Regions from separate parts of the Homo sapiens genome. Here regions 1 and 2 are each linked to region 3. The links come from fine-mapping of genetic effects on gene expression. A gene starts in region 3. Each other region holds a variant in brackets. All regions are shown on one strand. Distances are from middle to middle. Region 1 overlaps MIPEP (mitochondrial intermediate peptidase). Region 2 overlaps MIPEP (mitochondrial intermediate peptidase). Region 3 holds the start of MIPEP (mitochondrial intermediate peptidase).

The links. PIP is the estimated chance that this variant, and not a neighbour inherited with it, causes the effect.
Region 1: its variant is fine-mapped to the expression of MIPEP in aorta (GTEx, PIP above 0.99).
Region 2: its variant is fine-mapped to the expression of MIPEP in thyroid (GTEx, PIP above 0.99). The same link has a PIP of 0.9 or more in lung and visceral fat.

What each region holds. Positions count from the first base shown.
Region 1 is chr13:23,857,469-23,862,696 of GRCh38, reverse strand. MIPEP (mitochondrial intermediate peptidase) reads left to right here. Exons shown (of 19, transcript NM_005932.4): 9 at 335-395; 10 at 3,785-3,837. Among named protein-coding and RNA genes, the nearest start is that of PCOTH, 29 kb to the left of the region's middle. The variant C/G (reference allele first, on the strand shown) is at 1,885.
Region 2 is chr13:23,803,009-23,808,236 of GRCh38, reverse strand. It overlaps MIPEP (mitochondrial intermediate peptidase), which reads left to right. Exons shown (of 19, transcript NM_005932.4): 16 at 2,168-2,287. Among named protein-coding and RNA genes, the nearest start is that of PCOTH, 83 kb to the left of the region's middle. RefSeq lists an enhancer at 1,166-1,315. The variant A/G (reference allele first, on the strand shown) is at 3,156.
Region 3 is chr13:23,886,817-23,892,044 of GRCh38, reverse strand. MIPEP (mitochondrial intermediate peptidase) reads left to right here and starts at 2,645. Exons shown (of 19, transcript NM_005932.4): 1 at 2,645-2,913. The coding sequence starts at 2,725. C1QTNF9B (C1q and TNF related 9B) reads left to right here. Exons shown (of 5, transcript NM_001007537.3): 5 at 1-946. The coding sequence ends at 756. PCOTH (prostate and testis expressed opposite C1QTNF9B and MIPEP) reads right to left here and starts at 3,177. Exons shown (of 4, transcript NR_172510.1): 1 at 3,034-3,177; 2 at 2,003-2,045; 3 at 514-660; 4 at 1-432. RefSeq lists enhancers at 2,246-2,305, 2,365-2,865.

The DNA of each region.
Region 1 (5,228 bases), 29 kb after region 3:
CTTTTAAAGGTATAGCAAAAAGTAGTGATTTAAAGTTAGTGATTAATGCTTTGCATATTTGTAATGACATTGCTAGTTTTTCCAAGCTTTAGTACTCTTGAGACATTTATCCACCATGATGCTTTTTAAGGTAGAAATCGCAGTAATATGCTGCTTTATATATTGTTATTTCTCATGACACTTAGGTAAAATTTGGATTAATAGTGATTTATGTGTGCACTACTAATTGTATCTAATCTTATGAATATTGGAATGTAACATAAGCAAACTAGTCCTTTCATAATGTAATTGTTAAAATTTTGTCCTAACAAGTAATGATAAACCTGTTTTATAGAACTCTGAAAGATTTTGAGATGATACGAGGGATGAAAATGAAACTGAATCCTCAAAATTCCGTAAGTATGTTGGAATATTTTTATTATAATATAGACAGTCTGTCAACTGAAATCAATATCTTTTGATTCAGGAACTTTCTTGTGATAGGCTACAGGTCCATTTAGTCTTGTTTCTGATCCTCGGTTTTGGTGAATAAAGATGTTGAAATATTTGATTCTTATGTCCCAAACTGATGTTGCCTGTACATACAGCATTTTTGTTGAGGAGTCGACATATTTTATGTATATACACTAACACAATGTGTATATATTCATGCAAAGACTGCTTTCATTCTGTGGAATGTTGGCTTCTCAGTTTGAAGCAGACTTTAAGGAGACTCAGTGGAGGCTTCATCTGGCAGGTGGCAATTTTAACCATCAGTGTTAATGTTGCAGTTCATTTGCTTATTTGTTAGCTAATTTATGGTGCCCAATTGAGTATTTGACTAACAAAGTATACCACATTCTAAAAACACTTAAGTGTTGTTTTCAATCATATGATTATATGATCTTCCTTATGTGATCCAAGAGTATAGACAAGTATTGTTATGGCCAGAATGCTGCCCAGGTGATTGGGGGAGTGCCCTGAAAAGTGTCGAGAGTCCAGATATTAGGACTCATTCCCATTTGGTTCTAGGGCACTACAGGATTGCCGGGGTTGTCTACACCATTCTTTTCCAAATGCTGTTATTAGTTCTTGACTTAGTTGCTGCTGCCAGAGCCATAGTCATAAGGAAGATTTAGGGAAATGGGCCTTGCAGATTTACAAACTGTTTACTAGCTTCCCAGATACAGCCACTAGGAAACAGATTAATCCCATTAAACTCAGCGATGTGTAGAGTAGCATGTCAGTCTGTTAATTTATGGAAGGAGCTGTGTCTAGCAAAGTAACTACTGTTAGTCATCTGCACAGTCATCTGCACACCTTGACCTGGTAGGTAGGCTTATTTGGGAAACCAGATAATAGGTAAGAATTTAGTTTGGTGACTATAGAAACAGAAAAATAAAAAACAAAATGTGTTGCCAAAAGCTAATTCAGTAAAAGTGAATATGACTTTAAACTGTTATCTGTAGATATTTGTATATAGCTTATGGATACAATTATTCTGCAGATATTTGTGAAATGCCCAATCTCCTCATGAAGTCCCTGCTTTGGTGAATGGTGCCACCATTCACCCTGCTGCTCTGGTCAGGACCTATACTTAATCCAGACCAGTGGTTCTCAAAGTGTGGTTCCTGGACCAGAAGCAGTAGCATCACATGGGAGCCTGTTAGAAATGCAAATTCTTGAGCCCCACCTCAGACCCACTGAATCAAAAACTGGGGTGAGCTCCACAATCTGTGTTTCAACAAGCACCCCAGGCACTGCACACTCCCCTCCCCCATAATCATTTGTTAGGTCCTGCAGATTCTCCCTCCCTGTGAACTCTTGTGTCTTCTCCTGTGCCCATTGCCATAGCCTGGGCTATGATCCCAATCATTATTCTCACCCAGATGGTAACTGGGATTG[C/G]CTAACTGGTTTCTAGCCTTTTGTTTTTGCTCCACTCGAAGCCGTCTTGGATTCAGACAGTTTAGCCATGTATTTAGCCCAGTGTTAGGCATAGAATTGGTTGTCAACACTTATTTGAACTATGAATGAATAATGAATGAATGAATTGCCACCAGAGGGATTTGTCTAAAAAGCAGATCTGATCTTGTCACTCTGTTGTTTAAAATTATTCAGTAGCTCCTGGTTATTCTCCAGTTTCCCTTCCTACTACCCTGCTGCTCCCGCCAAGCCCTCATGATTTGGCCCTTGCCTCCTTCTCTAGCTTCATCTTCTGCTGCCCCTCCAAGCCGAGGCTGTGTTCTTTGCTCTCTCCTAATACCTGTGTGATGCTCATGTGATCTCTATTCACTTAGTTTTGCTTTCTTTCCTTGCTTTGCTTTCTTTGATTCTTTAATTTGAATTAATATTTACGTGCCGGCCACATAAATATGGCATGGTGAGCAGCTTCCAGTCATTTACAAACACCACCTACAGGAATGCCTTTCTCCCTTTCTCATCTGGATTAACTGCTTCTATCATAAAACTCAATTCAGGCTTTGCCTTCTTGAGAACATTTCCTAACCTTCCGCTGTGATTTAAATACTCTTCTTGTGGGCTGTGTTTTACATGGCACAATGTAGACATGACATACTGTCCTCTGATTGTTGAGTCACTTGCCCTTCTACTGCCTAGGCTATCATCCTCTTGTTTTTGTCTGATTACAGCCTGCACTCTGTCTGCATCTAGCAGATAGCAAATAATCATCTGTTAGAGAAAATGTGTGCCAGGACCAGAACACTGTGGGGCTAGGGTTCCATGGACGCAGTCCCTGCCCTTCAGGCACTCATGAGGAGAAAGAAAATAAGCCTACAAGTATCTTAGGTTGTCATGCATCCCATGATATAAGTATTACCATGGAATATGGGAAATAACACCTTGTTATTGGAGGAGATTATGCCTAAACTGAAATGTTAAAGGATAATGGTAATAAGGAGAGTAGCCAACATTTGTTGAGCCCTTACTCAATGCCAGATATTCTACTTAATAGTTTAAGTACATTCAGCAGTCTTCTTTGGGAGGTACTGTTGATTCTTTCAACAAATATTTACTGAGTGACTACCCTGGGCCAGGTACTGTTCAGGGGACAGGAATGTAATAGGGAAGGATGCAAACAAAGTCCCTGTCATCATGCAGTTTATAGTCTGGTATGGATTGGAAACTTGAGCCCAGGCAGTCTGTCTTCACAGCCTGGTCTCTTAACCACTCTTTTGTCCACCTGGACACCTAGAAGGAAGGACAGTCATTCAAGTATTCAAGCTTTCCCTTCTTTCAGTATTATGTGCCAATCATCAAAAGCAACTAGTACTATAGTACTTCTTTATGACATATTTTCTTTGCCAAGATTAGAGTTAATTCTGCCTTGGTTACATTTTAAATTGCTGCTTTCATTTTTGATATCTACCCAAAGCTTCTTGCTTAGATTTAGAAAGAACCTTAATCCTACCTTTAGTACACTCATCTTACCTACAGTGTGTTTTATGGATTAATACATGGGTTACATTTTGGGAAAAATTTCATTATGGCTAATATAATTCGTTAATGTTTACTTTTGTTAGATACCACTTCAGAATGACATTTGTTTGTCTTTTCCCCAGATTCTGGGGTAGGTCTTAGTTATACTTCACTATCTCTTGATTACAGGGAAGTCAAAATAAGGAGCCAGGTATTTTCTGCCAAGCTATCAATTTTTTAAGGGATTCTATAAAATTGTTCTGATTTACATGAACAGTAGCTGGTTTACATTCTATAGGCTGGCCACGTTGCTGATAAAAACTATGAAAGAGTCAGTAGCTTTCCTTAACAGTGAATTATTCCATTGTAGGAAGTAATGCCCTGGGACCCCCCTTACTACAGTGGTGTGATTCGTGCAGAAAGGTAAGTTTTTCAAGAAATACCCGTACAGGAAAAGGAAAAAGGAAACTAATGTTTATTCAGCAGCTACTGTCATCCACTGAGTCGCCCACAGTACAAACCCTTCCCCTGACACCATTCTTTCTGCTGGCGTGGTCTGCTCCACTCATGTATTCTTCAGCTGCTTGTATCATTTCCTTGTTTAAAATTCTACAATCTGGTCCCTCTCCAGCTCTGCCCTTGCGTAGCTTTCTGGTTCTCTTCCTAGGCTGTGAGCATTGCTGGAATCCTTGTTGTATCCCATTGCTGGCCCAGAGTAGGGGCTCAGCATGTGTTTACTGAACCAGTAAAGGAATAAAGTGGTACATGGCGTGGTACTACGTTATTTTCCTTTTTTTTTTTTTTTTTTTTTTGAGGCGGAGTCTTGCTCTCTCCCAGGCTGGAGTGCAGTGGCGCTCTTATGTTTTCTCATTTTTATTTGGACACATATATTGTCAACACATTATTGGTCCATCTGGAAGGATATAAATGAAATAAAGATTTAAGGAACTTAAGTTGACAGAAGTACTCCTCTGGCTTCTATATCCTCCTGTGTTTATTATATTGGAGAAAAGTAGGTATGCCCTTCTCTCCCTACAGACACACTATTTCTGTAATTTTTATGTTATAAACCCAAGAAATAGAGCTCTTTTCACAGTGAACACACTTTAAAATGTTTATAGCTGAAGCAACTTTATATACCCAATAGGAATTTTTAAAAAAAAATCTCAGAATCCTACTCTTTAACAACTTATTAACATTTTTCCCTTGTAGTTAGTTTTTGAGATATGCTGTTTAAGTAGGAGAGTTAAGGTTGATTTAGGTAATAGAAGAAAATGTAAGTTTTTTGTTTTTTTTTCCTCATTAAAGCATACCAGCATGTACTGTGATGATACGTGTATTTATTTGGTATTAAGCTTTAAAATATTTTTATTACTATGCATTATTGAAGCATCAAGTAAAGCATAGTAGGTACTTCTCCAAAATAAGAAGTATTTGCTTAATTATTTATTTCAGCATTTGTCATAAAAACAGAAAACAATAACTTTCTATATTCTTTTCTATACCAGCAGGATGAGGTAGCCTAAGATCAATTAGTGTTTTGAAGCACTTACTCACTTAATTTTCATTTATTTTCCTCTCTTTGGTCTCCATCTATCACTGTTGCCAAAACCATTTTTACTTACAAGGCATAATTGTGTCCTAACCTTTAGTTAAGAATATTTGGTCAGTTACTATTTTTTATTTTTATTTTTCATTAAACAACTCTTTTTAGAGACAGGGTCTCACTTTGTCGCCCAGGCCAAAGTACAGTGGCGTAATCATGTCTCACTGTAGCCTCAACCTCCTAGGTTCCAGCAGCCCTCCTGCCTCAG
Region 2 (5,228 bases), 84 kb after region 3:
GTCCCAGCTACTCGGGAGGCTGAGGCAGGAGAATGGCGTGAACCCGGGAGGCGGAGCTTGCAGTGAGCCGAGATCGCGCCACTGCACTCCAGCCTGGGCGACAGGGCGAGACTCTGTCTCAAAAAAAAAACAAAAAAAAAACACTGTTTTTAAAACTGTACATTTTTTAAAATTATTGTTTTAAAAATAGGCTCTTCATTTTTCTGTGACTTAATAAGTTTCTTGGCCCCAGGAATGCATGACTCCCTGGGTAGGCAGATAGGCTCATGTCTTTGGAATTGTTTAGTTTATCAGCAAATAAGCATAAAAAGAATGCACATTTAATTTATTTTGCTCTGTTTTCATATTTAATTTATTTTGCTCTGTTTTTATAATTCAAAAAAGTTACCCCATGTTTATATCATTTTGTAAAAGGCATAATTGAAGAAATGAAACTCTTGAATTCTGATTTATTTATACATTGGGGCAAAATAACACCTCAGTTGAGGTTAGAATGTAAGAGTTTCAGTTCCTGATAATTTACTCTGTTAGAATATAGGTAAGACATTGAGTAATTTTGGCCTCCCTGATTATCTTTATGCATCGTTACTCATTATAAAATGTAGAATTGAAAGAGCTATATTTAGCTATATGTTTAGATTACCAGTTAGAAGAAAGCAATATTTATATTTAGGAAATGTCTGTATTTTTCTAGGGAAGGTTTAAACTTAACTTTATAATTTAGAACCATAATTCTATATCTAGATGCAGCCAGAAGCCAGAGGTCATTTAAATTTTCTCTTTTAACCAAACTAATCCTCACTTCTTTCAAGTCAACAGCTGCACATTCTCTACAAATCCCATTTCTGAATCACAAAGATACATATCAGAAGCATAATTGCGTGTCAAAATTTGTCCTTTAAAATAAAGCATTTTCTACTTGCCTGCATGAAGTCAAATGTTCAAGTCAGTGTTGAAAAACAATATTTGAGTCAGATGTTGCAGTGAAAAAATGCTTTATGTTTATTTTAGATTTCTTTGCAAAATTTAGTTTTCAGTACTTTGTAAACAGCAGATTTCATGTCCAAACTTTCTTTAATGCTTTCTTCTCCCACTGTGTTTCAGTGGCCTATATCCTCTACTCAGAGGAGAGTGCTCCTTTTCCCCTGGTCATCTAGTTGAGCCCTCCCTATACAGCAGCTGCTTCCTTTGTACTTCCTGACACCAGGTGTGGGAGTCTAGTTCCAACCTCTCCAACAGCTGCATCAGAATTCTTCGATACATCTATACTCACGAGATGCTGCATTGCTATTTCTTTCTCTACCCCCACCACACCTATTTAATTTTCTTTCACCTTTTATCACAAAACTAGAATTCTGACCGTTTCATTTCTCTCATTTAAGATATATCAGGATTCCAGGAGGAAACCAAACAACATTTGTTAGATCCAGCGGGTCTAAAGTTGTAACTGGTTTTGTATATTTCTGCCTACAGATAGATAGATAGATAGATAGATAGATAGATAGATAGATAGATAGATATAGATTTTTTTGTTGTTGTTGTTGTTTTTTGTTTGGTTTTTTTTTTTGAGACGGAGTCTCTCCCAGGCTGGAGTGCAGTGGAGCAATCTCGGCTCACTGCGAGCTCCGCCTCCCAGGTTCACGCCATTCTCCTGCCTCAGCCTCCCGAGTAGCTGGGACTAGAGGTGCCTGCCACCACGCCTGTCTAATTTTTTTGTATTTTTAGTAGAAACGGGATTTCACTATGTTAGCCAGGATGGTCTTGATCTCCTGACCTCGTGATCCTCCCGCCTCGGCCTCCCAAAGTGCTGGGATTACAGGCGTGAGCCACCGCGCCTGGCCTTCCGTCTACATATATTTTGGCAAAATTCCAGTTTTGTGTCACATATTTGATTTGCTGCCATTGTACATAAAGAGTATCTTATGGGTATGGTTCAAAATTCTTTAATATTCTTATTTATGAAAAGGTTGAGAGCATTCCTTTTAATCTTTAGCATGGTCTTAAATGTGGTATGAAATACATTTCAAACCATGTAAGTTTATTTTTGTGACTGTTTTCAACTGTGATTGGTAACTGTTGTTCTGGTGCACTTATAGCATCTTTGGTCAACCACATCTTGATGTGAGGATGGACGACCAAAACTAAGTAGATGTTTTTATCTATCTAGGTCTTTTATGCCACTCTGGATCAAATCTACCATGGGAAGCATCCCCTGAGGAATTCAACCACAGACATTCTCAAGGAAACACAAGAGAAATTCTATGGCCTACCATATGTTCCAAATACTGTGAGTCCAGCATTTGGCTTCTGTTTTGTGTATTGAGTGGTTCTGCTATTACTTCTGTAGCTTGTGATTATCTTCCCCTTTGGAGAACTTGAAATCCCTACATTTATGTTGAGGCTTCACATGGCTCAAATGCTGGAAATTGCCTGGTTCATTTAATATTTCCAACTACCCATTTATATGTTCTTATTTTCCTCCCTCTAACAGTGTTTTTGTACCTTTTTGGAAATGTGGGGGTTAAAAAGGCCATTGGAGTTGGTCTATATTCTTCTTTTTAGTTATTTTTCTACAATGTGAAAAATAGTGATGTAAGATGAATGTGATTACCAGTCCTGAATCATTTTCATTGCAAAGAGAATTAACATGTATTGAGTATCTTACATTGTACCAGGAATTATAATAGATGCTTTACATATCTTATCTTGTTGAGTACCATGTCAGGAGAGAGAGCAGGAGTAATGTTACCATTTATTGGATTCTAGGCGCCAGACTCTATCTAATTCCTTTGGGAAAAGATCTCTAATTTAGCTCTCAAAATAACCTTATAAATTAAATTATATCCTTGTATTTGGGGCTCATTTGGAGGCACAGACACATTATATGTCCTGTCTGAGATCATCTAGGTAGTTAAGTGATTGTATGGGGGTTCAAAACAAACAGGCTTTTTTCATCACTCAAAGGCTCGTGTAAGGAGCAGTTGAGCACCGTGACTCCTAGTGCAATTAACAGTGTGATTCTTGGTGCAGTTAGCAATGTGACTGACTTAATGTTACCCAGGCCTTTCTCAGCTGCAAGTGATAGAAACGTGGTTCACACGGACTTAAACAGAAAAGGGAATTTATTGAGTCTTGTAACTGAAAGGTGCAGGGGT[A/G]TAGGGGTGTTTCAAGTAAGTTGGATTTAGGTCTCCCACAATGTCGTTAGAAATGTTTCTCTCTCTTTCTGCCTCTCAGCTCGGTGTTTTTCTGGGTTCCTTTCATTCTCTGGCAATCCCCCCAGACTGAATGGTTTGATAACTACCGGTAGGTTCAGGTCGATGTCCTTCTAGCCTAGTTGGTCTAACAGAAGGAGAGCTAACTTGAAAGTGTTTTGTAAACTATAAAAAGCAGAATAAATGTCAAGTGGTTTTATTTGCTCTAAGATTGGATAGCAGAATATGTTGTGCTAAGAGATTAAGTTAATCAATAAACTACAATTGTCCACTAAATCTTCAGGTCCTAATGCTCAAATATGCATGGGAAGAGATCGTATTTACCAGACAAGTGAAGCAACAGGATATTTTATCTTCATAATACCTCTTGTCATTAGTTTTCGATTGGCTTAGAACCTTAATTATCTGCTACAGGTATATAATGTCAGTCATACTAACTAATTTTTTAATCTTACATGTAATTTACTATTCTAATACTTTCTACTGCCAAGCTCTTGATTATCTGTGTTAGTGAAAATTTATAGTGATAAGAATAATCTAACTATTTATTCATGGAATAAATAATAACAATTGCCTAGATTTTACTAGCATTTTCCAGTTCACAGAGCATTGCCTGATTCACCTGCTTTTGGGCTTGTATGTTTTTGTTCTCATCTTATATTCTTCTTTGTGAATATGAGTTAAACTTCATGACCAGTAAGTAGTAAAGTCCTAGGAAGACTAACATTAGGAGAACTGGGATGCTTGCCAAAGCTACAAAACTTCAGTTTGACTGAGTTGCTTGCCTTCTGCCCTTTTTTATCGTAGGTCTAATAATAAAGTAATTATGTCTCTTTTTAAAAGAAAACTTCCTTACCATCCAGATTTCTTCTCTGTAATCATTTAACATACAAATATGAAGTATTAGTGGCAACCAAATTCTGAATCAACAATCCATAAATCACTTTTAATTTGAAAGGAAGGGTGATGCTAAGTCCGTGTGCCTTGTCCTAATTCCTTTTGAGAAAATAGAAAGATGTATCTCTTTACTGGGATTAGCTCCACAATTCACGTTCAGTAGCCATCACTTGCTCTTTGTGTAAATTGTTTTAAGAGGTCTTTAAAAGAAGCATAGCTATGTTTAGAGAAAAAAAGACATTATTTTAAGGCTTGCCTTTAAAAAAAAGTGTCTGAGAGTTTGTTTAGATTTGTACAGATAGCCTACTCTTCCTACTTAGAAACTTCTGCATTTCTTCATTTGTTTGTCAATGCATTCATCAAGCCTATAACATTCCCGACATCAAGTTGGTGGACTTGACCACCAACTTGAATTCAAATAAAGCTGTAGGAATTAAGACAGTCTAACACTGGTGTAGGGATGCACAGATATCAGTGAAACAGGAGCAAGAGCCCAACGGCAGACTCAGCAAATTAATAGACTCTCAAATATAGGTTGAGTGACACTGTAGATTATTGGATGAAGAAGGAACAATTTTTTAAAGTGGTGTTGTAGTGATTGATCTCTATATGGAAAAAAAAATGCAGCCCTGTATCACACTGCACACAAAAAATAGAGTTAAAGACCGAGATGTGAAAAGTAAAGCTTTAAATTTTAGAAGATAATACAAAAGAATTTTTTCTTTTTGATAGTGTTTTTGTTGTTGTTGTTGTTGTTGTTGTTTTGAGATGGAGTCTTGCTTTGACTCCTAGTCTGGAGTGCAGTGGCGCAGTATTGGCTCACTGCAACCTCTGCCTCCTGGGTTCAAGCAATTCTCCTTCCTCAGCCTCCTGAGTAGCTGGGATTACAGGTGTGCGCCACCACTCCTGGCTAACTTTTGTTTTTTTAGTAGAGACGGGGTTTCACCATGTTGGCCAGGCTGGTCTCGAACTCCCAACCTCAGATAATCCACCTGTCTTGGCCTCCCAAGGCTGAGGATTACAGGCATGAGCCACCGCGCCTGGCCATGATAGTGTTTTTTATACCCACTCTGAGTATCTTATATTTTATACAGATGCTTCTCAACTTATGATGCGGTC
Region 3 (5,228 bases):
GAAGCAAAAGGCATCAAAGGTGATCAAGGCTCAAGAGGATCCCCAGGAAAACATGGCCCCAAGGGGCTTGCAGGGCCCATGGGAGAGAAAGGCCTCCGAGGAGAGACTGGGCCTCAGGGGCAGAAGGGGAATAAGGGTGACGTGGGTCCCACTGGTCCTGAGGGGCCAAGGGGCAACATTGGGCCTTTGGGCCCAACTGGTTTACCGGGCCCCATGGGCCCTATTGGAAAGCCTGGTCCCAAGGGAGAAGCTGGACCCACGGGGCCCCAGGGTGAGCCAGGAGTCCGGGGAATAAGAGGCTGGAAAGGAGATCGAGGAGAGAAAGGGAAAATCGGTGAGACTCTAGTCTTGCCAAAAAGTGCTTTCACTGTGGGGCTCACGGTGCTGAGCAAGTTTCCTTCTTCAGATGTGCCCATTAAATTTGATAAGATCCTGTATAATGAATTCAACCATTATGATACAGCAGTGGGGAAATTCACGTGCCACATTGCTGGGGTCTATTACTTCACCTACCACATCACTGTTTTCTCCAGGAATGTTCAGGTGTCTTTGGTCAAAAACGGAGTAAAAATACTGCACACCAGAGATGCTTACGTGAGCTCTGAGGACCAGGCCTCTGGCAGCATTGTCCTGCAGCTGAAGCTCGGGGATGAGATGTGGCTGCAGGTGACAGGAGGAGAGAGGTTCAATGGCTTGTTTGCTGATGAGGACGATGACACAACTTTCACAGGGTTCCTTCTGTTCAGCAGCCAGTGACAGAGGAGAGTTTATAAATCTGCCAGACCATCCATCAGAATCAGCTTGGGATGAACTTATTCAGATGGTTTTACTTTATTAATTCCTCCAATTATTACAATAATCATAAAAAGGTGAAAACGGAAAAGTTATTCCCAAAACTGATTCTATGTAACTTACTATTTTTCCAGGAGTAAATATTTAAAATAGCTGCATGGTTTATTCTAATTTATTTCACATTTCTTATTCCTATTATCTGAAGAATCCTTTGTCTGTGCATTTCTTGTGGGAAGAGTGTTTTGATATCATTTTAGTGCTCTGAGGAGTCATATGAAGATGTATCCCTCATCTGTGTTTCTGAGGACATTAAGGGGAAATTAGAGGGAAATGTTTATTCCATTTAGTACTAGTAACAGCTTTAAGCTGGTGATGCTGTCACACTCCAGAAAGCTGTAGACACTGCTCATTTTGTCTTTTTTTAAAAAATGTATTTTTAAGTTCTGGAATACATATGCAGAACGTGCAGGTTTGTTACATAAAAATGTGCTGTGGTGGTTTGCTGCATCTGTCAACCCATCACCTATGCAGGTATTAAGCCCTGCATGCATTAGCTATTTGTCCTGGTGCTTTCCCTCCCATTTTGCTCATTTTCTAACCTAGGTTTTAATCACCATTCTATCCAACAAATCATTGTTTGATCATTATTTGCCAGACATGAATCTCTACTTGTTTTCTAGGATCGCCCTAATAAAGTACACAAACTGGGAGTCTTTAAACAACAGAAACGGACTTTCTCACAGTTCTGTAGGCTGGAAGTTTGAGATCACCGTAGCAGCAGGGCCATCCTCCCTCCAAAGGGGATACAGGAGGATGCAGCCTTGCTGCTTCCAGCTTCTGGCAGCTGGTGGCAGCATCACTCCAGTCCCCGCCTCCATCTTCAGGTGGCTGTCCTCCTCCTGTATCAGCCAAATTTTCCTCTTCTTACAAGAACAGCTTCCCTAATCTAGTATGACCCATCTTAATCATAATTGCAAACTCCATATTTTCAAATAAGGTCACATGTACAGGCACCGAGGGTTAGGACTTCAGCATCTATTTTGGGAGACACAGTTCAACCCAATCTGCCCTCTGGTTCCCAAAATTGATTTCCTTCTCATGTGCAAAATACATTTTCGCACCATGTCAACATTACCAAAAGTCTTAACACTTTCCGCATCAACTCCTCTCACCATCTACATCATTTAAATAAGCTACAGAGGAGACTTACTGTGTGATTCATCGTGTGGCAAAATGTCTCTCCATCTGTGATCCTGTGAAGCGAGACGAGTTAATCCACTTCTAAAAGACCGGGGGTTGGAGGGGGAGACAGGCATAGGGTAGACAATCCATTCCAAAAGAGAGAAAGGGGAAGGAAAAAAGGGTTCACGGGTCCCAGGCAATTCTGAAACCCTGGAGGGAAAATCCCATTAGACTTCTTTCACTATTTCCCATCTAAAATTTTTAACTGAGCTATGCAAGAGTAAAAAGTTACCGGACAGAGACACCAAACAGAGAAGTGCAGGATAAATTTACCAAGAGAGTAGGTTAAAAGGGAAACTTCTCCTTCAGGCCTATGGTGGGCATTTCTTGTTTACTCAAGTACCTGCCGTCTCTCAAAGAATATCTAATGTCCACTGGAATTCGAATATGTCATGATTTTACTCGCGCCCACCCCTAGTCAACTTGGGAGGGAAGCGCAACCCTAGCCTTTTCTTACTCTGGACACAGGGGGCGGTAAACCGGGAGGGCGGCCGAGAAGGCGAGGGGGAGCGACGCTCTTGCTCTCTGGACGACAACGTGCCCACGTCCTGAGGCCGCGCCCAGACCCGGAAGCGGGGCCGTCACGTGGGGCGGCGTGGGCTGCTGCCTTGGAAACGCGGAGCGCGCGCTCCCAGCGAAAGCAGCAGGGCAGGGATCTGCGTTGGAGGAAGGGACTGCTCTGGTGCTAGAATGCTGTGCGTCGGAAGGCTGGGCGGCTTGGGAGCCAGAGCAGCAGCTCTGCCGCCCCGCCGGGCGGGCCGGGGAAGCCTCGAAGCCGGGATCCGGGCCCGAAGGGTCAGCACCAGCTGGTCTCCCGTGGGCGCCGCCTTCAATGTCAAGCCCCAGGGCAGCCGCTTGGACCTGTTCGGCGAGCGCCGGGTGAGCGGCGCAGGAGGAGCTCCCCTCAGTCCCCGAGCTAAGCCGACCCCTGCTCCGCGCGGCCAGCAACAATCAGGGCGAGATTGTTTGGGCCTGGGAGGAGGCGAGCAGCGAACCCACCTTTTACAGTGGCGTCTTGTGTGCGCTCTCGATGAGGGCAAGGTCACCTCTGCTTTGAGGGGCCGGGTTTAGTGGTCTCCTACCCAGAGTGTCGGGTCCGGGAACTGCTTCTGCATGAGCCCCTTGCTCCACGTGAATCTGAATAGTTCGTTCTGGCAGTGGCGGTGAATTCGTCCTGCCAGGACCCGCCCTCTGCATACACTCAGGCGCACCCCTGCTAAAGCCCTTTAGCTCCAGCGCTACAGTCCTGCCTTAAGAGGCCTATCCCTGTGCGTTCACAGGCGGCATCACATGGTCTTTTTGCAAGGACACGGCTGCCTGCAGTCGAGTAATGGTAATTTCATTAATACCTGAAATTCCATCATCTATTAATTAATTTATTTCAAAGCTTTGGGCTTTCTTGTTTTAAAACACAAAACTCTGTTGAGACGAGTCTCACTTCCCATAGTGCCATGGAATTGGTCACTTTGATTTCTTACCCCAGGAAGTCACTAGCCTGCGTTGTCTAGTGAAAGGTGAGAGGAAGGCAAGGTTGGAAAGGACTTACCTGATGCCTGTTCTACTTGGAGTTTGTACATTTTGTCCGTTTTAGGTTAAGGATTACTTTTATTTTTGCCTTTTAAAATTTCGTTATACTGTATTGCCTTATAAAGACAAGTCTAGGGTATTGTTGCACTGAGCTAAAGTGTGTGATTCTTGTTTTATCTCCATTATCAGTTTTGTCTATTTAAAAATTATTTTGTGTGAAATTTGCTACACCACCTTCCTTAAGGGTATGTAGTGTTGGTATTAACATAGTTGGTGTGAAGAGACCTACTTGTAGGCGCTGAGCAGAAAGACGTGAGGGGAAGCCTGATTTTGGGTGGATGAGATATAACTAATTTTAGCTTTTATTTTTCCCTTTTTGTATCATGATATTCGGCACTGATAGCAGATTTTCAAATTTTAGAATTGATTTTTGCCTTGAAAAAAAAAAAGCCTTATTCAGTTTTTTAGCATTATGGTCACTGGTAATCCGATAGTTAGAATTCCCGAGAGCAATATGGGCAGGTTGTACTGGGAAGTGGAAGTAGTCTGTGCTTGAATCAAATTAAATCAGTATAAAGATGACATTTGTTTTTGGTCCTGATTTTCCTTTGTCTCCCACTGACTTTCTTTTATTTTATTTTTTATCTTGTAATATATTTTGAAGAGAGATTACTAGCTTAACTTCATCCATCCCTTCTTGTAGAAACAGTAGGGCTTGTCAGGCCTGAAGGTTTACCTGTTCGTATTTCTGAAAATCTATGCGTTAAGCACCTACAAAGTGAATTAACAAAGCCTAGCATCTGCTCCGGTCACTTGTTTCTTTCATTGAGTTCCCCCATGTGTTAGACATTCTATTGGATAGCTGGTTAAAGAAATGAAGGGCAGGGCTCTTGGGTCTGGAAGCTCACCTTTTCAGGAGAGAAGACTTTCAAACAGATAAATTGTAATAGAGAAGTATGGAAAAGTGTGGGCTTTACAGATGTACAGAGCGGGTTCGAGTTCTGTCTTTCCCAATATTAATTTGTGACCTCAAACAAGTTTTTTCTAACGTCTTAAAGCATGTGGCCTGATCTGTAAAAGAATGATACTCTGTTCTGTAGGATTGTGTGATTTAAATGAGAACCTATGTAAAGTAGCAGGCACACTTCATGGTATGCAGTAGGTGCATATTAAATGCTTTTTCCCCCTGCCTTCCTGAGTGTGCTAACAAGTGTGATTGAATAGGTAACAAGAGAATGGTCATTACCATTAGATCAGTGATTTTTGTTTTTATCAAGATATTGAAATGTCTTTGTAACGTATAAAATTTGCTCCCAGTTTCAGCCTATGATTTTAATATGTTCATTACATTTTTCTAAAATATCTATTGCTTCATAGTCAACTCATCCTCCCTATTTGATAGTTATAGAATAATTGGTACTATGTACTGAGATCTCACCTTGTCAGCTGCTGCTGTTAGTACTTTACATATACTTATTACCTGTATCCATGCTGTAAGGTATGTATCGTCATTCCCATTGTACATGATGAAAAAAATATTTCTCCTAGGAGGAGAAATAACATGACCAGGGTTATAAGCTAATAATAATTATGGCTAACATCTATAAATGCTCTGTGCCAAACACTGCTTTATGTATATATATATATATATTTACATATATGATCTC